Homo sapiens: one gene and its partner. The protein of the gene in region 1 purifies or fractionates together with the protein of each later gene. This does not show direct contact. Each region holds a gene or a part of one and is shown on either strand. Other genes may lie near its edges. The genes, in order: MDM1 and POC1A.

Evidence for each region.
Region 2: the proteins of MDM1 (region 1) and POC1A purify together in Homo sapiens (affinity purification with mass spectrometry; 2 studies listed by BioGRID and IntAct, with this or other methods). This does not show direct contact.

What each region holds. Positions count from the first base shown.
Region 1 is NC_000012.12:68,327,392-68,340,132, reverse strand, and holds the start of MDM1 (nuclear protein MDM1), read left to right. Parts: upstream 1-7,770; 5' UTR 7,771-7,887; coding exon 7,888-7,905; exon of another isoform or gene 7,906-8,129; coding exon of another isoform or gene 8,130-8,132; intron 8,133-8,911; coding exon 8,912-9,026; intron 9,027-12,622; coding exon of another isoform or gene 12,623-12,699; exon of another isoform or gene 12,700-12,741. UniProt on the Homo sapiens protein: Microtubule-binding protein that negatively regulates centriole duplication. Binds to and stabilizes microtubules.
Region 2 is NC_000003.12:52,132,682-52,144,463, forward strand, and holds part of POC1A (POC1 centriolar protein homolog A), read right to left. Parts: intron 5,622-11,782; coding exon 5,488-5,621; intron 1-5,487.

The DNA of each region.
Region 1 (12,741 bases):
CCTCACTGGTTTATACCTGTTATACCTGTTTTATTCATTTACTATCATTTCATGAAGTTTTTTCTTTCTTTTTGAGACGGTGTCTCGCTCTGTCGCCCAGGCTGGAGTGCAGTGGCATGATCTCGGCCCACTGCAGGCTCTGCCCCCCGGATTCACGCCATTCTCCTGCCTCAGCCTCCCAAGTAGCTGGGACTACAGGCGCCCGCGACCTCGCCTGGCTAATTTTTTTGTATTTTTAGCAGAGACAGGGTTTCGCCGTGTTAGCCAGGATGGTCTCGATCTCCTGACCTCGTGATCCGCCCACCTCGGCCTCCCAAAGTGCTGGGATTACAGGCATGAGCCACCGCGCCTGGCCCATTTCATGAAGTTTTAAGAGGAAATTGAGATGAATGCATGTGTTTGCCCTGGCATTCAGTTACTGTCATTTTACAGAGTTTTAAGAGGGACATCAAGCATGCACACATATGTCTGAACTGGCATTGTATCGGTCAGAGTTAAATTTCAGATAATATAATTTATTCTAGCTTTTCAAAACAGAAAGGGTATTTTCAGGGTATTCAGTAGTGAGGAAGACTAGTATTGCAATACTAGTCTACCAGTTCTTCATTCTTCCTTTACAACGAACGTGACTCTGCCACTCCTTCCGTGAAGGGGTTGAGTCTATTTCCCTAGCCCTTGAATCTGGGATGGCCTTTTAATCTGCTTTGGCTAACAAAATATGGTAGAGGTGATGGTATGCTGTTTCGAAGCCAAGTCCTCAAGAGGCTTCACATACTTTGGAATCCTCCGTACTTTGGATTCCTTTTGGAATCTTTCCTTTTCCATGAAAACAATCCAGGCTATCCTGCTAGAAGATGAGAGCCCAAGTGGAACGATGAGGAGTTGTCCTAGCTGAAGCCATCTGAGACCAGCCAATTTCTAGCTAACCCATCAGCTGGCCACAAATCCACAAGCAGGCTTAGTGGGATTAGCTAAGCTCAACCTACATCAGCAGAACTGGCCAACTGACCCAGAGATTCATAAGCAATAATAAATGGTTATTATTTTAAGTTGCTGCATTTGAGAGTGTTTGTTATGCAGCATTATTGTGGCAACCGACGATTGATACAAGTGGCTTAAAGAATCATTATGAGAGCTGAAGAAGTAGACTCTAGGGCCACATCACAGAACAGACTCACTAAAGGAGCCTACAGTCAGGAAGTCGTGGAACCAAGAATCTGCCTGCTAAGTTGAGACACCTTTGCTACAAGCTCCGACTTCACCTCTGCTATGACCAGGAAGCTGCTGGTAGAGCTGCCAACTCCAGAACTACGCTGCTGTTGCTGCTACTGTCATGATTTACAGCAATGCAAACCTGTGCTCTGCTTTTTTCCCATCTAACTCAGTTTATGCAAGTGCTTCTGATCAGCAGAATGTAAATTATACCCACACTTCAGTTGCAAAGGGGTCTAAGGTCAAAGGGGTTTTTAGTTTTCCAGCTTCTGCAGTAGGAGAAGGAGGTTGGCATGAATTTGGAATGAGTCAGTCTCAGCATCACCACAGCATGATTAACTAAAATACATACGATTCCTGAAACTTATTCCATAGATAGTGCTCAATGATACTAAAACAACATATTTATATATTCAGTGTTTTACATTTGGACATATCATGCTACACTGTCAACCATCATTCATTCAATTAATAGAAGTTGAGAGGTTGAAGGATGAATTGAATAACACGATACTAAGATTTTATACTAATTGCTCCAGCAAAATACATGTAAAAATCTTTTTTTTTTTTTGAGATGGAGTCTCGCTCTGTTGCCCAGGCTGGAGTGCAGTGGTGCGATCTCAGCTCACTGCAATCTCCACCTCCCGGGTTTAAGCAATTCTCCTGCCTCAGCCTCCTGAGTAGCTGGGATTATGGGTGTGCGCCACCACACCCGGAAAATTTTTGTATTTTTAGTAGAGACGGGGTTTCATCTTGTTGGCCAGGCTGGTCTCGAACTCCTGACCTTGTGATCCGCCTGCTTTGGCCTCCCAAAGTGCTGGGATGACAGGCATGAGCCACCGTGCCAGGCCTTAAGAGATAAAAATCTCTTAAGGGAGTCAACAATTATAAGCCACAAAGGAGAGGAAACTGACTTTATGTTCTGAAAAATTTTTGGTCCCTTATTGATACTTCAGATACCATTATCAGTAGAAAGACTGGCGATTTCAGAAAGAATAATAGTAGCAATCTGGACTTAATCTGCAGTTATTTTATTTATTTATTTATTTATTCGAGATGGAGTCTCGCTCTGTCACCCAGGCTGGAGTACAGTGGTGCAATCTCGGCACACTGCAATCTCTGCCTCCTGGGTTCAAGCGGTTCTTCTGCCTCAGCCTCCCGAGTAGCTGAAACTTACAGGCGTGTGCCACCATGCCCGGCTAATTTTTGTATTTTTAGTACAGAAGGGGTTTCACCAAATTGGCCAGGCTGGTCTCAAACTCCTGACCTCATGATCCGCCCGCCTCAGCCTCCCAAAGTGCTGGGATTACAGGTGCATGTACATTACCCGTGATAAAAGAAATATTTCAAAATTTATTTTGGCATAAAGGTAGAGATTTACAAGATTCTTAGAAAGGCTGATCTGACCTTAAGACACAGAATCCGATTTGATGAGATGAGAGAATTCATGCTTTCAAATCAGCAATTAGCAATTCTGGAAAATATCTGCGTCCCTGTGAGGACTTTTCAAAGAGATGGTGATTTAGGACAATAAATAATCAATGAAGAAAAGGAAAGGGAATTCTTAGAACAGAATCATACAGTGAAGGTATTAAAATGAAAGAAATTTTGTGCCCCAAATGTATTCCCTGGACCTTGTGCAGCTGCAGTACAACATTATTATTATGGTATGTGAGGCTTGCCAGTGGTTTATGCCTTACTGAGAATTACTTTACTCAGCCGTGGCCTTGTATGGTGAGGAGTCCTTTCGGCTCACCAAAAAGAGAGAAAAAAAAAAAGTCCTGTTGTCAAGAGAACCTGGAGTCCCTCCAAAAGGTGCCCCACTGATTCAAAAGCCAGACACTCCCTTGTCAACAAAGGCATCTCACGGCTAAAAGTCTGGAGGGCAAATTGCACTTGGCTCATTGCTAAGTCTTAATCATAGAACCTATTTATTCGATTCTTACTGACATTAATGTGAAGTATCAGCAATTTTGCTTCTCAGACAGAATCCATGGATTTAATTGTCATTTTTTTTAGTTGTGCAATCAGAAATTCATTCATAGGAGGAAAAATCAGCTAATACCTATGGAAAAATGCAAAAGAAAGCGGTTGTCAGACTGATTGCTTTTTGGCAAAGGCTGAGCTCAAGATTTACCAATGAAAGCCCAATTAAATGTGACCTGAGAGAATGTTAACAGAGCTAAAGAGCATTACTAAGCCCAAAGACTGGCATTTCAGTTACCTTGTAAGGTATTTCAGAGAAAATTACATATATGTAAACACAAGGCTGTGTATCACTATATTGATAAAATAGTAGTTTCTAAAACAGCTTTACTGATTTCCGAAGCAACAAGAAAAAAAAAGACAACAGAAAGCAAGTAATTCACCTTTTTGGGAACCGATCTTCAGCAATGTTAGTTGAAACTTCTCAAGGAACATCTGGCTTGGATTCAGCTACCCAGGGCAGAACAAAAAAAGTGAAAGGTCTCTAGATCAGGTGTTTCCCAGGATGGAATTTAAATTCAGCTCCTTTATCCTGCCTGCTCTTTAATAGTCTATCTTAGATCAAACTTTCTGGCTCCAGGTTTAAAAGCATCTTTAGAATACCAAGGTGCTCACATTTAGCCCCTTTCTCACTTTCTCCTTTCTTTTTATTTTCTGTGTTCTTTGTGTACTTATTGATCCCCCATTAGAAGATTATAATTATATTTGAAGACAGGGGCTATGTCTTATTCATCTTTGTACCTCCCTTCTTCAACCCTCGTCTGATGTGTTTGCTCATATACACTTTTCTTTTGTTAAATAAAAATAAATATAGTTAGAGGCAAATACAAATTCTTCACTGTTTCAACTGCTACTGAGAAAATGATAGGAGATTATTAATTTGTGAAGTGGTCAACTTCCTTTTTTAATAGAATGAGTAGTAGATGAGAATATTTTATATTTCAAGTGCAAATAAAATTTGCCTCAAAGGATTTTGATATGTTTTTGTCTCTAAAAGGAGCAACAGCCTTATCGTGAGGTATATGTCAAGATAAATCTAGAAAGGGCCAATGGAGTTATTTTATTTAAGGAAAATAGCCTCAGTGGTAACTATCAATAACTTAAAGTTTCCATATCTTACCAGTAAACTGAATAAAATGCTCTTTTCTTTATAGCTGCCGCTAATGGAGTTGGACTCATGAGTGAGGGAGAAAGTGCCTGTGAATGACATCATTATGCGACATCATAGGACAGTTTTTTTTTTCTTTTATTCACTCGTCTTTCTTTTATTTCAACTGATGGTATACCATAAACAGTCTTCTAAGCCTTGCTTCTTTTCTTTGAGAGTCTTCTATGTTAGCTCATAAAGAGGTGCTTCTTGCTTGTTAGGGGTTGTATGGAAGTGTGCAAGTTAATAAGCTGTTGCATGTCAGTTCCAGTCTCACCCTTCAGACTGTGCAAATCACATGGCCAGCTCCCTGTTATGTTTGCCAAGAAAGGAAGCTAGGGAAAGACTGGGATGCTCTGTTTTGTTTGCTGTTCCTCCCCGCAGCACCTGAACAGTGATCTTCTACCCCACAGTGGCAGTTCATTGCAGTCTCCAGCTTGTCTCTTTTCCAGACGTTCCCAGAGAGTCTCATTTTGTCCCCTCAGAGGCACCCCACCAGTGGGGCAGTGGCCCTTTCTCAGCGGTCTGACCAACTCCAGGAGGCCTCTCCTACAAACCTCCGCATTCTAGTAACCTCAACATTTTCCTTTTGTTCTCTCAGCCTTACAGTATGAGCTGCTTCCTGGAGTTCCTCTTCTTTATCCTTTTGGCTTTAAGTTCTTCAATAGCTAATGAACCAATAGCTTATATTAAGTTCTCTTTGTTGAAATGCCTTGTGTAGGGTCTGTTTTCCTAGCTGGACCTAACATATCCATGCAGGATCAGAAGGCCCAAAGGAGCAGAACAACCTGCGCTACTCTTTGAATTTGGATGAACCGTAATGTATTTGACTAGTTCTCTCTAAATGGACATTTAGGTAGTTTTCAACCTTTTGTAACTAGAAACAGTACATTAAACAACTTTAAATGAATATTTTTTTTCACATATGTGTGAGTCTATCTGTAAGATAAATTTATAGAAGAGGAACTCCTGGATCAAATTGCCAAAATGCCCTTCATATAGGTTGTGCAAATTCAGTCTCTCACGAGCAATAGACAGAAATCTATTCCTATGAGAAATAGAGAAATCAACAAAGGGAAGAGTGAGCCAGGTGTGATACCACTGTCCCAGTAAGAGGGCCTTAGCTAGTGGAAGAGAGAAGCATAGCATGAGATCTGTCACTTGAGGAATTACTTTTTGGCTTAGACTCCACGGACTTCATTTTGAGCCCTTTGGCGATGAGAAAGGCTAAAACACAAATGAAAAGAAGGCTCTCTAAGACATAGTGTTACTCACTTCAAAGAGGGTAACGCAAAAAGGAGAGGTGCTTTGCCATAGATTACCACCAATGCCAGGCAGTTTGAGGAGTGGCTGTACCCAGTTGCTGTGCCCAGTGAAGACTCAGTACCAAGCTAAAGTGGCTGTGATAGCCAGCAGCAAGAGTGACACCTACAGATGCATGGCTATTGGAACAAGGGGCAGTGCTGCCCGGCATACGCTATGTGGTTGCTGCGAGCACATGTGAAATACCTCCTAGGGACTCCCCAAAACATGGGTGGAGCTTTGTAGGGTACTGGGTACTGTTTCCTGCAGTAGCAGAGAAGATAAGAGCTGGTAAAACACAGGCTACAAAACTCATTTACTAAGGTAGTCACTTTTTTTTTTCCCATTCCTATATCTTTGCCTCTTAAACTTGGGTAGGCTTTTGTTTAACAATAGCAAAGTAAAATCTTCTTCCTTAAGTCTTTATGATACTTCTCTAGCAAGCCTGGGATGTGACTGAGTTATTTTTACAATCTGCTGTTTGGTTTTCCTGTCATTTACTCCCTGCTCAGCAGAGCTCTTCTGCAGTGATCATTGCGCTTGTTTAGCAGGCAGGCTACATTCTACACACTTGCTTTTGCTGATCTCACCTTAGCATTTTGTGGTAACAAAGCTGTGTGCACAACCAAAGTTGTGCCTTTCTTACTCTGTAAGATGGGCTGCCTTCCTGCAGATGACTTTTGTTCTATGTTCCACTGTGTCTTGTTTGTGCCATTCTTAATTTACACGACAGAGATGCTGTCATCACCAATTAACATTAATCAAGGGCCCCCTGGATGCATGGCTGCATTGGGACTAATTTAATATGCTCTTTGTTCCAGATATCAGGTGGCTTCTTCAAATGATTTTTAAGTATCTCGATGATGATGAAGAACAAAGACATCAATCAGGATTCAGGAAGACAGCTTTTGCGGAAAATGCTTAAAGGGAAGCATCAAGGATTGGTGTTGATATTTGAAAGTTTAAGAGTGGTATACTTTTATTCAGTCAACACATGACAAATGTAAAAGGCACTCATTTGTTGTTCCTGGAAGAAGCCTGGCAGCATTCCATTCAGACATCTGCCCTTTCATCGTCCCACTTTTTACTTATTGCAGTCCTTTCAGTCTGAATATTTCCTCCTGACGCATCTTCTGCCGTCCGAAATGACTCCCTGCTCCCAGATCCTGTAGCCCTTATTATTGACACCTTTCATTTAGAAATTTAGCACATGTCACATTACACCATTATTGAATAAATAATGAATAAATAAATAAATAAAGATGTATGTCCTTCCCAAGTATATCAGAGAACTATCTGGACAATTTCTTTCTTTCCCAATTCTCAGAATCAGCAGTATTCTGTCAAGAAACATTTATCGACGATGATGGCAATAGTCGATTAAAATCAGATGAAGTTTTATTTTTAAAAAAAGGTTGAGCGGAGAGACAAGGCTGAAGGTTTGGAAGTTGAGACAACCATCTTCAATAAACGTTTTCTCATCTAAGGGCTGTATGTACATCATTTTGGGGAAGGTAGAGATTGAAGGAGGAAGAACATCACTGGAGGAAGAGACAGCAGTTTGTCTTTCGAGTTTCAATAAAGTTTCAAAAATCTTGCCTAAGTTATATATTTTTTTGGCCTTTCCCTTTTGATGTGACAATAAACTGTAATGCGGCTGTCGTTTGTACGAACCGATATTCAGCAGAATAAATCTGAGCACTTTCAGAAAAAGAAGCGTTCGGTTTTCTCATAGATGTTAGCATGAAGAACACACTTTGACCTTTGATGCTGTCAAGCACCTGGGCCAGCGAGGCTGGCGGCTGGCGAATTCCACCAGCAAGCAGACGCATTGCTGCGCAGGACCCGGCGAACCAGGGACCGGTCCACCCAACCCAGGAAGGCACCCCCGGGGTCCCGCCCAGCCCGGTTCCGGGAGCCTTATTGGCCGGCCTTCCGCCCGCCATCTCTATCAGCCCCAGGGATTTGGCAAGGGAGGTAGGCGGCTCCCTTTCGGCCACTCATTGGTCAAATCCTAATGGAGGTAAGGCACTCTGCGAGTCTCTATTGGTCCCTAGGCTCCAAAAAGGGCGGGGAAAAACAGACCGACAGGCCTCTAGGCGGGAAGCGCGGAGTGCGCCGGCGCGTAGTCGGGGACGCCGGGCCGAGGCTTTGCTAGGGAACACTGTTATCGCCCCGCCCCCTCGGAGCTTTTTCTCCAGTTAACTGTCGGAGTAGCGGGGGCTCCGGCGCCGGGCGACATGCCGGTGCGCTTCAAGGTGAGGCTGGGGTCCCCGGGCCGGAATGTGGCTGGGGGGAGCCATGGCCGGGGAGGTGTGGAGCGCCGAGGTCACGCTGCTTTTCTGCGCTGCAGCCCTCTGCCCGGCGGAAGCTGCCAGCCCCAGGGCCTGCTCGAGGGGCCCCAGAATCTGCCCGCCGCCTCTTAACCTAGTTCCCTCTCCGCTCACTCACATTTGCAAGCTGCAGTGTGTCGAAGAGTCAGATGGTGCGAGACACATTTACTTAGGGGGACTCAAGAGGAGTGGAGATGGGAGGAGGTCCCTTTGCGAAGAGAACTAAAGGCGACTTCAGATTGGGACACCTGTGGCCCATTTAGCTTAGCATTTAACCCCCATTACCTTTAAAACTTTAGTGTATGTGGCTTTTAAAGGCTTGAGAAATGGGTTCTTAGTAAAGACAGCGTATAAAGAAATACACGTTTTTCATCGTTGTGCATTCTTAGCGTATGTTAAAAGTTCCAGGTAGCTGGTAGCTGTCAGGGACTAGCACCCTGCAACTTCACAGGTGGCCACAGCGTCCCACATCTCCTGACTCATTTATCTTAAAGGCGTGTATTCAGAATGGAAGGGGAGTTTGCCTTTTGTTGACTTTATCAAATAGCAAAAGGTCCTAGGCATGGTACATAATATTGTGTACTCGGTGAAAACCTGCGATAAATCTAGAATGATGAGAATTTAGATTGTCATTAGTTATCCGACAAGAACTCATGCTTTGGAATCAGATAATCAGTGAAAGGGTAACCTCTGAGCCTGGAATTCCTGGTAGCATCTGCCTCAAGTGGTGTTGTGGATTAAAGGATATAACACGTGTGAACTGCTTAGCACAGGGCTGGGTGAATATTAGCTCTTATTAAGGAGCTCGTCTGTGTTTAATTTTCAGTCTTAAGTCTCTTTTGGGAGGTTCAGAAATTATTTTTCACCGATGTCTGCTTTAAAACATCATTCATTAATTGGACTGTACTCAAAAGTGTACTTTGCATTACAGGGGCTGAGTGAATACCAGAGGAACTTCCTGTGGAAAAAGTCTTATTTGTCCGAGTCTTGTAATTCCTCCGTGGGGCGAAAGTACCCATGGGCTGGACTTAGATCAGATCAATTAGGTAAGTTGAGCAGGCTAATAGCCATTCTAACCTGGGCTAAGTTTATAACTTGGGCCAAGCCGTTATAACTTGGGCTAAGTAAACCTTGGGCTAAGTTTACCAAATGATATATTAAAAGTTCAGTTGGCCTGGTTGATTTATTCATTTATTAATCAAGTATTTATTGAAGGTTTACTATGAGCCAGGACTATTCCCAGCAGCTAGTGTGGCAGGCCAGGTTTCACTAATGGAGGCCTCCATCACAACTGTTTCGGTACTGACTGAGCGGTTAAGTTAAATATTGAAAGCTAAAAAAAGCCAGTGCCCTTACACAAAGGCTGGGATGTCACAAAAGCCCATCAAGAGTATTGCCTAGGCCTTTCCTGGGCCATAAAGCATGACAAAATAAGGAATTCTTAACAGGATCCGTTTAGGATTAAACAAGTTTTACTGGGGGTCTGAAGAAACTCCCCAGGCCTCCACAAATTTATTGGCGGTCTGAAGGAACTCCTCAAACCTCCATGATTCAGCAGGAGACAAGATAAGGGTAATCAGCCCAGCACCTAGACCCATTTAGATTAAGTAAATTTACTGATGCTCCAGAAGAAGGTCTTCAGGACTCAGACCTTAGTTATAGATTAAAAGAAGTTAATCACTTATATCCTTAGATGAATGCACACTTACACGTAGACATATAGCTTAGAAGGTATATAAGCTCTGAAAAACTTTGTAATTTGGGGTTCGTCTGGTGATAATTTGCAGGCCTTCTTCCCGTAACTGGTTATAGAAATAAAAACTCTCTTTCTCCCTAGTTTATCTGCATCTCGTTATTGGCCGAGAGAAATAGCAGCCTGACCCTCAGTTTGGTCTGGGAACACTAGGGATATAGCCCTGAACCAAAGTCCCTTAACTGTGGAGAGAAACAGTAAGCAAGTCACTCAATAATTAAGGGAATTTCAGGTTTTTATATAAAATTGTAGGGAAGTGTGATACATAACATGCGGGAGGAGTGGATTGGAGGGAAAATGCTTTAGATTAGATGGTTGGGAAAGGCTCTTTTTGAGGAGGTGATATTTGAGCTGAGACCTGAAAGCTGAGGGGACAATGCTGGGGAAGAGTGCTCCCAAGGTCTTGAGAAATGGAAGCTTAGGGAGATGAGGTCGCTGCCCCAGCTTTACAGCTAGTAAGTGGCAGAACCATGATTTGAAATCAAGTCTGTTTTGTGCAAAGCATGTAATTTCAGAGGTCATGTTCTTGTTATCACACATGCCTCCTCCCTGTGTCCCAGGGAAGGCAGAGTCCTGGGCCAGAGTTTCCCGGAGGGTGATAGAACAGAAGGGAGACAGACTGACCTCATTATACCTGCTTATTTAATTCTTCCTTACTAGTATATTAGATCTCTGAGAGTAGGGCTCTGTCTTATTCACCACCCAGTACCTAACACAGGCCTTGGAACATTCTATTGCTTCTTGAAACTATTTTTTGAATGAATGAATTAGCCTAAATTTGAATTATAATAGCTGTGTGATGTTGGGCAAATTGAGCTAGTTTCACCAAGTGAGATTTTAGGAAGTCTGTTGCATAGGATTACTGGGAGGGTTTAAATGAGATGTTGCCTATTAAGGGCCTGGTTTGAGTACACAGATCAGTGCTTAGTGTCCCACATGTGATGTGTGCGAGCATGGCATGTAAGTCACATAAATGTTAGATGTTTGAAGCCAGGAAAAGACTTATGGGTAGGGTACCAAGCCTGGAAAGTTAGTAAGACGACGAGGTATTTTCAGAATTTGGTCTAGAGAACAAAGGGAAGAGTGGGCAAGAGTGAGTGTCTCTTTTAGAGTTCCTCTGAAGCATCATGATCTGACCCAGCGGCAAACTTCAGAGACTGGGTGTCCCTGCTTCTCCGGCAGGGTGCTAGGAAAATCCCTCTGCTCATAATCCTCTTTTTACAAATGACCAGAAATTCCACATATTTGAACCTCCATTAGATTAAGAATCCAAATAAATCTCTGTTTAAGCATAGATATCCCACCCTGCTGAGCGCCTACAGGGCTATTATGACACTGGAAAATTCATTAAACTGGGTAGTTGTCCAATAACATTTCAGCTTAGATCAGCTGCATTTGAGGGGAAGGTGATGAAATGAGACCATGAGAGCAAAGCCACCTTAGAGCATGGTATATAATGAAGGAAGGAATGGACTAGGGGAGGAACGTTAGTGGGGAATTTTAGGTCATGGGGAGGGACTGAGCAAGAATTCCAGAATGCTCAGAATGGGAGGTGGGAGGTTAGCAAAAAACAACAGCAGTGTTACCGAGGATGGCTGTCCCTTCTTTTAGAGTAGTGTATTTTTACCCTGGGGATTTGCTGGTGCTGGGAGACAGCGGCAGACCACTTGAGAATCTTCTTTCATTTTGTGCTTCTACCAAAAACCTGCCTCTGTGTTAAAGCAGAGAGGAGTCTAATTGGTGATCTTCAAGCTTTTTTGCTTTTATACTTCCTAGAAAAATTTAGAAAAACATTGTGCTTCGTCACACATTTCTAAATTGCTATTTTTTATAATAAATTTTTATGAATAGTTTTGAATGATAGAATTTCTGGTATATTGCATAGTGCTTATATATTTTACATATATTTTGTAAAAACTCTGGAGTTGCCAATTTAGCCCATTCAATTTTTGGAAAATGTTTATCATACAATTGGCAAAGTCAGTATTCATTGGCAAACTAACCGGCCAAATTAGAATTATTTTCTGTGAGAAAGTCTGTTTATCTTTAATTAAGGTAAATGTGTTATATGCATATGTACATTTCACATGACATCCCTCTCATATCTGAATTTTAATACTGAGAAGGTAGATGGAAAATCCATGGAGCTATATGAAATAAGATGCTGTTGCTTTGTTATTTCTAATCTCTGCCTGCTTTGTTTTGCTGTCAAATATTCTCCCTCAGGGATATGCTTTCTTGAATTGTCCCTTTGTTTGGCTCCCTACCCCTGAGGTTTTGTTCTACCTTGGGCGGACGCACTGGAGTAAGTTTCAGGCTGGTTAAGAGGTGTGTCTTTCTTCTCTAAAGTGGGAAAAAGGAGATTATGAAAGGGGCGGTGGGAAATGGAACTGCAGATGGCAGATGCAGCTCTCAGGCAGATATATCAGCATCAGGCAAGAGAGCACATGTGGAGTTGAGGATCTGGAAAATGATTCCCTTAAGCTGCCCACTTCTGTTTACCCTCCTAAAACATCTTTGTGTGCCTCCAGACAGATATCCACCCAGTGAGAAGACCTGTGGTCTAGGGAAGCCTTTTAAAAGGATAAGGACCCGGGGTGACATGGCCAAGACATCTACAACAGAGGCTAAGGAGCCCTGGGTTTTACCTCATGCCCAATTTTCTTTCCACCTTCCCTTTCCATTCTGGTCTTAATCTTCCTTCTGCACCCTGCAACTGTCTTAAAGAATGGCCCTAAACTAGGGCAGTCTCTCAGTGGCTGTCATTCTGCAGAGCTGCTCTTACCTTCATAGAAGGTTAAGTTTTTGGACATTTGCTTTCCATACAGAAATATAGAGAAATTGTATCTTAGCTGTTGTTAAAAGGGCTTATTCTTTTTTAATTCTCAGGAAATCAAGGCAGATGTAGAACCAAGATCCAGCACAGTGACATCTCATCCCTTCTCATCTTGGTCTGCTCCACATAAGAGAAGCTTTGTGAAAAGTTCCAAATTTTGACAGTACCAGGG
Region 2 (11,782 bases), on another chromosome or scaffold:
TAAACTTGTAACCAACATCCACCCCTGCTATGGTGTGAATGTTTTTGTCCCCAACAAAATTGATACTGAAATTGAATCCCCAGCCAGGCGTGGTGGCTCACGCCTGTAATCCCAGCACTTTGGGAGACCAAGGAAGGCAGATCACTTGAGGTCAGGAGTTCGAGACCAGCCTGGCCAACATGGTGAAACCCTGTCTCTACTAAAAACGCAAAAAATTAGCCGGGCATGGTGGCGTGCACGTGTAATCCCAACTACTCGGGAGGCTGAGGTGGGAGGATTGTTTGAACCTGGGAGACGGAGGTTGCAGTGAGCCGAGTTCACGCCACTGCACTCCAGCCTGGGCAACAGAGTGAGACTCCATCTCAAAAAAAAAAAAGAAAGAAAGAAATTGAATCCCCAAGGTAACAGTGTTGGGAGGTGTGGCCTTTGGGAAGTGATTGAGTCACAAGGGCTCCGCCCTCATGAAGGGGATTAGGTGCACTTATGAAAGGGCTTGACAAAGGGAGTTTGGTCCTTTCCGCCCTTCCACCTTCTGCATGTGAGGACAGTGTTACTCCCCTCAGAGGATGCAGCATTCAAGCCCCATCTCGGAAGCAGAGGGCAGCCTTCCCCAACGCTAGTACCTTGATCTGGGACTTCCAGCATCTGGAACTGAGAAATAACTTTCTGTTCTTGATAAGTTACCCAGTCTCCGGTATTTTATTACAACAGCACAGAACAGACTAAGATAACCCCTTACTCTCACAAAATGAGCCTGCGCAAACAAAAGGCCTCTCAAATGGGCCGATGTGTGCCACTCATGTGCCAGAGAGCTACCAAACCACCCGCACGCTGACTCCTGGCTGATAACCTGCCCTCAACACCAGCACACAGGTCCAGCCCAGGAGACCCAGGGCTACACTGGGTGATACTCATCTTAGCTGGCACTTGGCAAGTCCCTCTGTCCTGGCGCTCCTTGTACCTTAGGAGACAACTGAAAGGTAAATCAGGGTGAGTTTGGCCTCAACTCAGACAATAGAGTTGCAGCCCAACAGCACTGCACCCTGACCCTCCTTTTTCTACCCCAAACCTCCCCCACGGTTTCCCCAGAGGGCTTGCTGGGGCCCTTCTCCTGGCACCCGCAGAGCCCCCATGCCCAGGTCAAGGTCTGCCTCATCCCACAGCAGCTCCCTGTGGCTGACCTCACTGCTGCTCACCCCCAGCCTGCACTGTCCACTTCTCAGATGCAGAAATGGAAGCTGTCCCACTGGCCCTAAGATGCAGTAGCCCTCTCTCTCGCAGCTCTCCCAAGCCATCTCTGAGGACACAGCAGGTCCCCTGCGTCCAAACCAAAGTTTCATGGGGCTCCCTTCTGTTGGATCAGAATGGGGTCATGTAGCAGCAAGATGGGGACACAAGCCGACATAAGCCTGCTGGTACCCTACCTAGACCTGTGAGCTAAACACAAGAGTGACATCCGTGGGAGTTACATGGATCTCATGAAGATGGAGTAGAGTGGTGGTTACCAGGGCTGGGATGGGGAAGGGGAGCCAGGGAATGAAGGGGTTAAAAAAAAGAGAATATAAATGTATTTATTACCACTGAACTGTACATTTAAAAATGGTAAAGATGGTGAATTATACACATATGTTACCCCAGTAAAGATAAATAAGTAAATAAAAACAAGAAGGCTGGATGCAGTGGCTCAGGCCTCTAATTCCAGCACTTTGGGAGGCTGAGGCAGGTGGATCACCTGAGGTCAGGAGTTTGAGACCAGCCTGGCCAACACGGTGAAACCCCGTCTCTACTAAAAATACAAAAATTAGCCGGGTGTGGTGGCGGGTGCCTGTAATCCCAGCTACTAGGGAGGCTGAGGCAGGAGAATCGCTTGAACCCAGGAGATGGAGGTTGCAGTGAGCTGAGATCGCACCACTGCACTCCAGCCTGGGCGACAGGGCGAAACTGTCTCTGAATGAATGAATGAAAGAAACAAGAGTGAAATTACAAATAGAATTTTAAAAGTCACATGTACATGTGATAGAAACTGCATAGACACAGGTACTTGTCCCAGCTCTGGCACACTAGAAGTCATAAGACCCCCTACTAATCCAGACTGCTCTCATTTTCACCACCTGGACTCAAAAAAAAAAAAAAAAAATGCTTTCCAATCTGCCATCCTCCTTATCCATAGGACAGAAGCCCCAGGCACCCAAGACCCACTCAGGAGCCCCAGGCTGCTCAGCCACACAATTCAGGAAGTGGCTGATAGCAGCTGCGCTCCATCAGGCCCTTGGCCACCAGGACCCCACCACATCGCCACCTCCCAGAACAGAATGTGAAAGATGAAGTCACCAAAGAACCAGCTGCACATCTTCCTCGAAGGTCTGAGTGAGTGGGAGCCCATGAGGACTCTATACCTGCTGCAGAGTGCCCAGGCAGAACCCAGCCCCTTTGTCAGCAGGCCCCTGTGATGTGGCCTCCAGCCAGGCCCTCATCAGTAATGAACATCCTCGGAACCAGTTGGGTGACAACACAGGCCCAGCCCCTACGGATTTCTACCCCCAGCTGGAGCAAAGCCACCTCTGATCCTAGCCACAGATCTCCATAAGCACTAGGTATTCTGTCCAGCCAGTGGACCCCGTATCTTAACCAAATGCCCAAATTAAGGCTCCTCGATTGCACTATGCTCCCTTGGGAAGCCAACATTAGCTGAATCTGTTTTTTGGGGGGTTTTCTGTTTTGAGACAGTGTCTTGCTTTGTCACCCAGGCTGGAGTACAGTGGCACAATCACAGATCACTGCAGCCCCAGCTTCCCAGGCTCAAGCAATCTTCCCACTTCAGCCTCCCCCGAAAGTGCTGGGATGACAGGAGTGAGCTACCACACCTGGCCCATTAGCTGATTCTGAATCACTCCAAATCCAGGGGCAGAGCTAAGCATGACAAGGAGCCACAGCAAACGCTGGCAGACCTGGGTCCCAGGGGTGCCAGGCTGTGGTATGGAGGTGAGCTGGTCTTTGCTGGAAGTAAGTAAGGCCTTCTCCTGGGCATCCCTGCCCCATACGTACTCACACACTCACACCCCTACCTCAGCCCTCAGCCTGGCTCTTCAATCATGCTGCTGCACATCATTAGTAAGGACCCCAAAAGAAAGCCCTCTCAAGGCAGCAACCCCACAGTGCAGGTGGGAGGGGCGCAGGAATCAGGCCAGGTTTGTCCACATCGGGACCTTTCAACCCAGGCCAGCTGTAGAACCCGGTATTGACTTGCCACCACCAGTTGGAGTGCATGGTTGGTCTCACCATGGGTCTTAAAGAGGAGGGATGGGAGAGAATCAGCCTCTAGAAAGGAGCAAGGATTAAAGTAAGTGCAGAGGTGGGGAAAGAGGGTGACCCTGGGCAATTTGTCTTCCTGAATCAGTTTGCAGAACCCTGAGCAAGCCAGGCCCAGGGGTTCCTACACCTGGATACCTGGAGTACCCCACAGAGGGGCTGGGTGTCGTCGGTATCCCAGGACAAAGAACCCTTAAAACTTGTGGTAAATCAATCCTAAGTTCCTGTATTTGATAGGGAGTTTAGGGGGCTGGGAGAAGAAAATAATTTGAGCCTCACACGCTGACTCCCACCTTCATCTGAGCTGTACCCTGGGAGATGGGCAGGGCCTACCCACCTTCACCTGCCCTCCAAGTACTCTCTAAGACTCAGTCTACCTCTCAGCCAGCCTAACTCGTCTCATGCTGCCTTCAGCTCTGTCAGCCTCCCTGTGGAGTCCCCCTCTTCCCAGGCCAGGAAGCCCAGGAAGTAGAGCTATAACATCCATTTCCTATCCCTGGTGCCCAGCCCCGTGAGCTAGAGAGCCGATGATGAATGAACAAACAGACAGATGGCAAAATGAACAGAGGTCGTTGGTTCGTTTCTCTTCTTCTCCTTTCCTCTGGGCATTGTGAGCCTGGTGCCCTGAAGAAGAAATGACCCAGCCCTATCCACACCCCAAACCATCAGCTGTCCCTTGGCCTGGTTCCCATATCTCTAGATTTAATAGCAGACAAGTGACCACACAAGGCAATGCGCCATGGTCCTTGCTTCACTTCCCGGAGAGAACAATGTCAATAGCTTTCGTTTATGTGCCAGATGCGATGCCAGAACACCGGGAATGACATTTTAGATCCCACATTCAAGTGTTTTCAGGCTAAGCGTGAGTTAGCTGTTTAAAGAACACTCACAAAAAGAGGTGATCACTTGATAGGCATCTGTTTCAAACTGTTTCTGAGTTTTGTTTTGTTTTTTTTAGGGGAGCAGGAGCGGTAGCAGCATTCACATGATTTTCAAATGCCCTCCTGGGCATAAGATCCCAAACGGTTACACATGAATCTGTATAACTTGCTTGTCCAGGGGCTTGGCTTGTGAACAGGCTTACACCAGGGCCAGCAGCCACCCCCTCTGGATGTGCTGGCCCAGGGAGAACAGGCCCACTAGTCCTGCACACTGGATATGTCTCTGACAGGGAAGGCAAGGGGTCACAACAAGGCTGGGGGCAGCAAGCAGCCTCCAGACCTTGAGGAAGTAGAAGAAAAGGCCTATGTCCCCATCCCCTAGTCATAGCCAAATGGCCCCCAGGTACCCTAACTCAGATGGCAGTGGAAACCCAAACAACAGCTCAGAAAACACCAGGCTAGACACCTCAGACTTAGCTGATAGTCCAAGACACATAAGCACCCCCAGGGCCTCCCTCAGCATGGCAGGCAGATTAGAGACAGACTTGAATTCAATGGACTCCAGACCTCCCATCTCAAGTGGGCATGGTGACTACGCCCCAACAGGAGACATTCTGACGACCGCTCTGATCAGGAGGGCTCGGACACTACTTCCTAGTGGAAGTACTAGATGTGAAAGGCCCGGACCCAGGCCAGTTCCTGGGGAGAACTGCATGTGGCCTACTTCCCACAGCCGGCCCCCAGGGACCCAGCCCACCCAGGGAGACCAGGGAACCGGCTGCTTTGAAGCTCATTCAGAAAGGAGGCCTTTGCTTCCTTGATTCCATTCCAGGAATTCTCAAACGACAAACATGAAGAAGACTTCCCTTCTTTGTCCCAGCCTCTGCAAGACACCTGAGGTTGCCTCAGTCTCTAGACACACTGATGTCTGCCAGTCCGAGGGCCTCCAGGAAACCCTGATGTCAACTCAGAGCATGGGTTCCAAGGCTCAACTCAACCTCTGGACCAAGGGATGGCTGAGGCCATTAGGGGACAGATTCCATTCAGGCCCCTAAGGGGCGGCTTGCTAACCATGCCCAGATGCAGCCCCCAACCCTTGCCCAATTCAACTCTTATATACCCTTCTCAGCTGCACCAGTCCCAGGCCCAGCAATCTGCCCAGGTCACATGGAAATGCCTCCATCCATCTCCCTGCAGGCTGTGTGGGTGACAAGCCTGTTTCTGCATCTTGCCCACTGCCCAGACAGTGAAGGTACCACCACTCCACACCACTCAGCACCTGGCCGACACCTCTCACCTGATGCCCGTGGAGTGTGTAGAGCAGCCGGCCCTCCATCAGGTCCAGGATCTTCAGGGTTGAGTCACTGGAGGCTGTGATCAGGTAGTTTCCCGACGGGTGGAAAGAGAGCCCGTTCACTGCTGCACTGTGCACTGGGGGAAGGACATCAGTCAGGTGCTGGCTAGGAGGCACAGGGAGCACAGCTGAAGCCCAAGACGGGCAATCAGGGCCAATCGAGGCTCAGCACAGGCCTGATGGGGCTGGGTCAGGATGGTCATTGCTCAGAAGAGCTGTGGGGAACCCAACAAGGATTTCCCAGGAGAGGGGCACAATCGAAGAACAGGAAAAGGCCTGTTCAGAGCCAAGGGCAGGCAGTGGAAGACAGGCGGACAGAAACAGATGCAAAAACCAGAGGCAGCAGACGATTCCTCCATCCTCTCCCACAGCACCAAGCGGTCAAGCTGGAGCAGAATAGAGTACTCAAACATACAAACATAGCCTTTGGTCTGCCCGATATACTCTTTCTTTAAAGAAACCAATGGAAAACAAAACCCTTCAAATGTCAATACAATGCCACTGCCACACAGGAAGGACGTGTGTGGGGGCAGACGAGCAGAAAGCTAAGACACTCTTAGGAAGCAGTCAGGCCTGCATTCGGACCCCAAGCCTCCTGCCTGGGCTCACCCCATGACGTTTTTTGAGAGACAGAGTCTCACTCTGTCGCCCAGACTGGAGTGCAGTGGTGCGACCTCAGCTCACTGCAGCCTCCGTCTCCTGGGTTCAAGAGATTCTCCTGCCTCAGCCTCCTGAGTAGCTGAGACTACAGGTGTGCCACTACGTCCAGCTGATTTTTGTATTTTTAGTAGAGATGGGGTTTCACCATGTTAACCAGGCTGGTCTCAAACTCCTGACCTCAGATGATCCACCTGCCTCGGCCTCTCAAGGTGCTGAGATTACAGCCGTGAGCCACCACATCCATCCTGAGCAAGCATCTTAACCACATTGAGCCTCAGTTTCTCCATCTGTACCATAGCACCTATGTGTAAGAGGTACTGTGCGGATGCTACTAAGTTAAGCACATGAGGTCTTTGCAGAGTGAGCCATCCAATGCCAACATGGATGTTCCTCTCCTTTGCCCCCTGTGTTCCATGCAACTCAAGGTCCTGCCACTTCACCCACTCAACAGCTTGGCCCTGTCCATGACTCTCTTTTCCCTACCATCTCAGGCTAACCCCACCATCTTTTCTGGTGTCCCTCACTCTCCAAGAGCCGGCCACCCCAGCTCTGTCGATTCCCCCAGCCGTAGAACTTTTTTACCCCTTGTTTCCAATGGGCCTGGGAGACTCTTGCCCTTCCCTTTCCCTGACCTTAAAGCTCATTACTGGAAGCTGCCTTCTCCAGGAAGCCTCCCCTGGCCTCCCAATTAGGGCCACCCCCTTCATTTGTCCTTCCAAAGCAGCACAAGCCTCCCATCGGTTCACTCTTCACATTCACATGCAACTATCTGACTCACATCTGGATCTCCCATGAGACCATGAACTCCATCAGGCAGGGGTGGTAAGTCCCTGGCACCGAGCAGGACTCAGAAAGTGGTTGGTGAGCAGGTGCTTAAGCTGGGTATCCAGAAGCCCCAGCAGGTTACACAACTCTCCCTCAAGGTCAAGAGCATGTTCTAGGTGAAGCTGGGGGCACACCTGGGCAGTCTACGTGGGGACAGAGCAACTCCACAGCCAATGCATGGATCAGCTGTATCACAGCCTCCTAGGGTGCCTTCTGAGGAAAACCCCAGTGTCTTTCTTCCCATTACCAGAGGCCCAATGAGGAAAACCAGTGGGGCTAAAATAACCATGACCCTGCCAAGTCAGAATTGCCACCAACATAAAGGCAGATTCAAAACCAACCGTCATCTTAGCACTGAAAGGCTGTAAGAACCACTACTGGGTTGGTAAACACACCCAACACGAAACGGCCCTCAACAAGGCCCACAGGGTGCACGCAGTCCCTCAGATGCCAGCCCAGCTGATGTGCCGATGTGCCGGGGAGTCTGGATACGTGTTCCCAGGCACACTTAGGGGGAAACAGCCAAGGCTTTACGTAACATGATATTTATATCTCAACAACACCCTCCAAGCGCCAGGATCTCCAGGAGGCAGGCTGGAGAGGGACCAGTGGGGTCTCTGAAGCCAGCTCTTGGAGGCAGAATTCAGAGACCCCCCCACCAGAAAGTCTGCACTGGGATGAAGGCCACCTCCACCCCTCCATGAGCAGAAGCTGCCAGAGGAACAGCCGGTGGCAGGAGGGTGCAGAAGGGAGGGCATGCTCAGGGAGCTCTGGGCTTCCCAGCACCATCAAGGTGGCAGGGTCAGTGTATGGATGCCACACCAGGGGCCCCCACCTGGTCAAGCCCATCCAAGGGAAAGAATCTCTCCCAGAAGAAGGGCAACAGAATCTCCACTCCACATAAATGCCAGGAATACCCAAGCCTGGATAGAAACACCTAGAACCATTTACTCCAGAAGAGGGGCTGGCCTGGCATACCAGGCTTTGGGGGATACCCCAGACACCAGGACCCACCCCACCTTTCCCCACTTGCTCTCCTGCCTCACCTACTGGCCGCACCAGCCTCCACTCTCACTCCTCTTGCCTCTGTGGAGGTGGTGGGGAGCGGGTAGTCTATGGAGGCCTCATCGTAAGAACCACCCCTGCATGAGAGTCTACCACGAAGGCTAGGCTGTCCCATGAGGGCATGAGCCTTCTATCATGATGCCTTGAGCGCCAAATGTCTGAGCATGATCCACTTTTTTTCAAGTCCAAAGCCGCAGGCCTCTTCTTGGCTCCATGGCAGATATCAGTGATGACACATACTGCCACCTGGGTGGCAGCTGTGAGCTTGTGGCTCTTATCCCATCTCCACTCCAAAGAGAGAACTCTGACTCCAGGTCAAAGATACACCAACATCAAACTTCTACAGATCCTCAGGGACCCAGGGATGAGGCCACCACAGCCCCTGCTCCCAAATACCAAGAACTAGTCATGGCTTGTGGGCAGTAGGTGGTCTAAGCAGAGACCTGAGTACACCCACTCCATGCTGCTCTGCCTGTAGAGGCTTGGGCAAACCTAGGCCCACTACCTAACGGGCTGCAAACCAGCCAAGGGCCCAGAGAAAGCCTGGGTGCCCAAGCAGGAGGTTCCTCTCTAGAGGAGACCATGCCAGGGCCAAGCCCCATCCCAACATCCTTCCACAAAAGGACCGCTCATTTTCCCCAGGGTGGTCTCTTGCGATGCGCAACTGATGTTACTAGTGACACGGTGGCTCTGGGTTGACAAGAGGCTTTGGATTCATACCACAAAAGTGCTCTGATACCAGCAGCAAAGGACACCCAAAACACTCCTCTGTGTAAATGCCGTGTAAATGCTCACTTCAGGACAGTGGGAGAGTAGGTTGGCTAGATCAGGTGGGACAGCACCACTGTACCCCAATCAACCCTTTTAGTCTCAAAACACCCAGTACAGGGTACAGGCCTGCCCTGATAGCTGCAACTACTTAAAACCCTCCGGCCGGGCATGGTGACTCACGCCTGTAATCCCAGCACTTTGGGAGGCCGAGGTGGGAGGACTGCTTGAGCTCAGGAGTTCAAGACCAGCCTGGGAAATACAGTGAGACCCCAACCCCATCTCTGAAAGAGAAAAAAAAAAAGACAAAACCCTCCATGACAATGTATCAGGCCAGGCGGGGGTGCAGGGCTGCACTAAAGACCATCGGACAGAGAGCTTGGGACTCTATGAGTTCTAAGCCCTGCTGACAGCCAGCCAAAGAGACCACCTCTCCCAGGGAGCCTGAAGAGTAAATGACTAGAGTCACCGAAGTGCAAGGAACCGAGCGTGAGCCTGTCAACAGAATGCCAGACTCAAAGGCCCTGAGGTGGAGACTCAGACCCATAGCTTTCTAGCTGTGTGACTGTGGGCTGCATGCTCCGCATCTGTGAAATGGAGGGTAGACCTACTTTGCTGGCCACCCAGGCCTGTCACTGGATAATGGACCTGCACGTGCTGTAAGGCACGAAGCACATTACAGGTTCTGGGATGGGGGCTGCTGCTCAGATGCCTGAACAGTCTTAACGTGGGCTCAGAGCATATGGAGCTAACCCACCACCACAGGGATTGGCACTCCCAGGGCTCCACCAGCCCAAATCCTTGCTGAATTGAGAAATCAGAACTGCTCTCTGCAGTGATAGGCCAGAGCCAAGAAACTCCTTACCTAGGAGAGTCAGCCAGCGCAAGACAAATGGCTCCAGCTGCCTCCATAGCCCAAAGCCCCAAGTGGGCTTCAACTCCAACAACCCTAGCAGGAACAGGAAGTGCCCTCATAGAGCACAACTATGGACGGCTGGATGCAGGCAGGCTGGGGCTTGCTAGCCACACACTGCAGTATCATTAACCAAATCCTCTCACAAGAGCCCATCAGCGTCCAACACCCGAAGGCCATTCTGGAAGTGCCTGATGCCCATCCAGAGTCACTAGGGGAGACACTGCACGTCACTGTGTCCGTAGGTTTCCCTTGGGTTTCCTAGGGATCAGGGACAGAAAGCGGATCAGGCATCTGTTGCCAGAGTACTGGGAGCCCTTCCTGGGGAATGAGCCTCCAAAGAGATTCCACTGCACCTATGGGGGTGGGGGAGCCACTTGGGTAGAGGGTTTCCCCCTAGTTTCAGCTAAAGGTTTTCTGGGGAGCCCCAAGACCAGAGCAGACCTGGCCATGTCCTCCCGTCAGCAGAGGATGAGAGGTATGTTCCCCCTACCCAGGGAGCTCAGATCAACCTGGCTCACTGCACCCCTAAGGGTCAGCCTAGAGGCTATGGGATGACTCCGCTATCCTGTGAACACCCACCACTGGCCACGGCATTGAGCAGGGAGCTCAGGGGGAACCGGCTGTGTTTATGGGGTACTCCAAATCCTGCTAAGCCTCCAATCTACACTAGGGGTGGCTTAGGGATGAGACACTGCAGGCCCACTGAGAGGCTGTCATAAGAGGCAAGGCCAGAAGCACAAGCAGACTGCAATCTCCCAGCAGGGCCTGTCAGCCCACACACTCAGCTCCACTCAGGACTCAGCCCCTGGAGCTCATCTGAGTCCATCCACACCTCCCCAACCCTGCCATCATGGAGATCCGCCCCTGCCCTCTGCCAAGCCTGCTCCCTCCAGGTCCCCAGCTCCCTCTCCCCAGTACCCACCGCTCTCCTCGGCTGCTCTGCATTGCTCCACCTCCTGACAACCCTCTTCACAAGACCCCACTCTCCTTCACTCCCCAGCCTCTGCCCTCCTCAGCTCTCCCATGCTTGGAGACGGGGTTCATACCTCTCACTCTGGCTGCTTTGTGGACCTTTATCTTCTGTGGCCCCTCAATTATAGGGGCTCAGAATGTGACCTCAGCCATTCTCACATCCCAGATCCCTGGGTCCAGCTGGCCCCTCCACCCCAACAGGGTCAGCTTCTCTGCTTCTACTCAACCTCTGCAACCCATCCCCCACTCTGATGCCAGCCCCTACTTTGATACCAGGCACAGCTGGACACCTACCCATCACTGGGACACATGGGGCACACCAGCCCCCAACCCCAGCAGGCTCTGGACACCGCTATCCTCTCAGATGTCCTTCTTCCCTTCATACCTTAAATGACGAGGCTAGTCCTAGCACTGCCAATCAGGCCACATCTTTGGGACCCCGAGCCAGAGATGGCATCCAAGGCCCTTCCCAAGGGGTACCTGCTGTTATACCCATGAACACCAGGCCCAGGCTCCTGATCCATCAGAGATGGGTCTGGACCCTCCCAGGGTCACCTAGACATCCTCTCTGCCCAGTGTCAGGACTTATGTAGCACAAACCACATACCTAGCCCTGTGTTATAACCCTTTTGTGGCTTTTCCCATCAGAGCCTCACAAAGCCATGAGGAAGGCCTATTGCCACCCCCTTTACAGAAAGGAACCACAGCATGTGCTCCTGACCACTGTCCTGCCTCGTCGCCTTCCACTCCCATCTCTCCCTGTCCAAGTCCTCCCTCCTCTGCACCTGCCCACGTTCCCCAGGCAGCTGGGCAGATGTGCCCCATCCCCAAGCCCCAGCCCTTCACTCAGGCCTGGCCCAGAGCAGAAGGCTGAAGGAAGGATAGGAAAGATATGGGCTCCAAGTGGAGGCAAGCCCCACTGCTCTTCTGTTCCAGAAGCCTCTGTCTGAAAGAGCATTGGTAACAAACCTCAGGGCTTCCTATGGAGGGGGGTGGGGTGGGGGAACAGGTTCTTGTGGCTGGCCCCTGCCA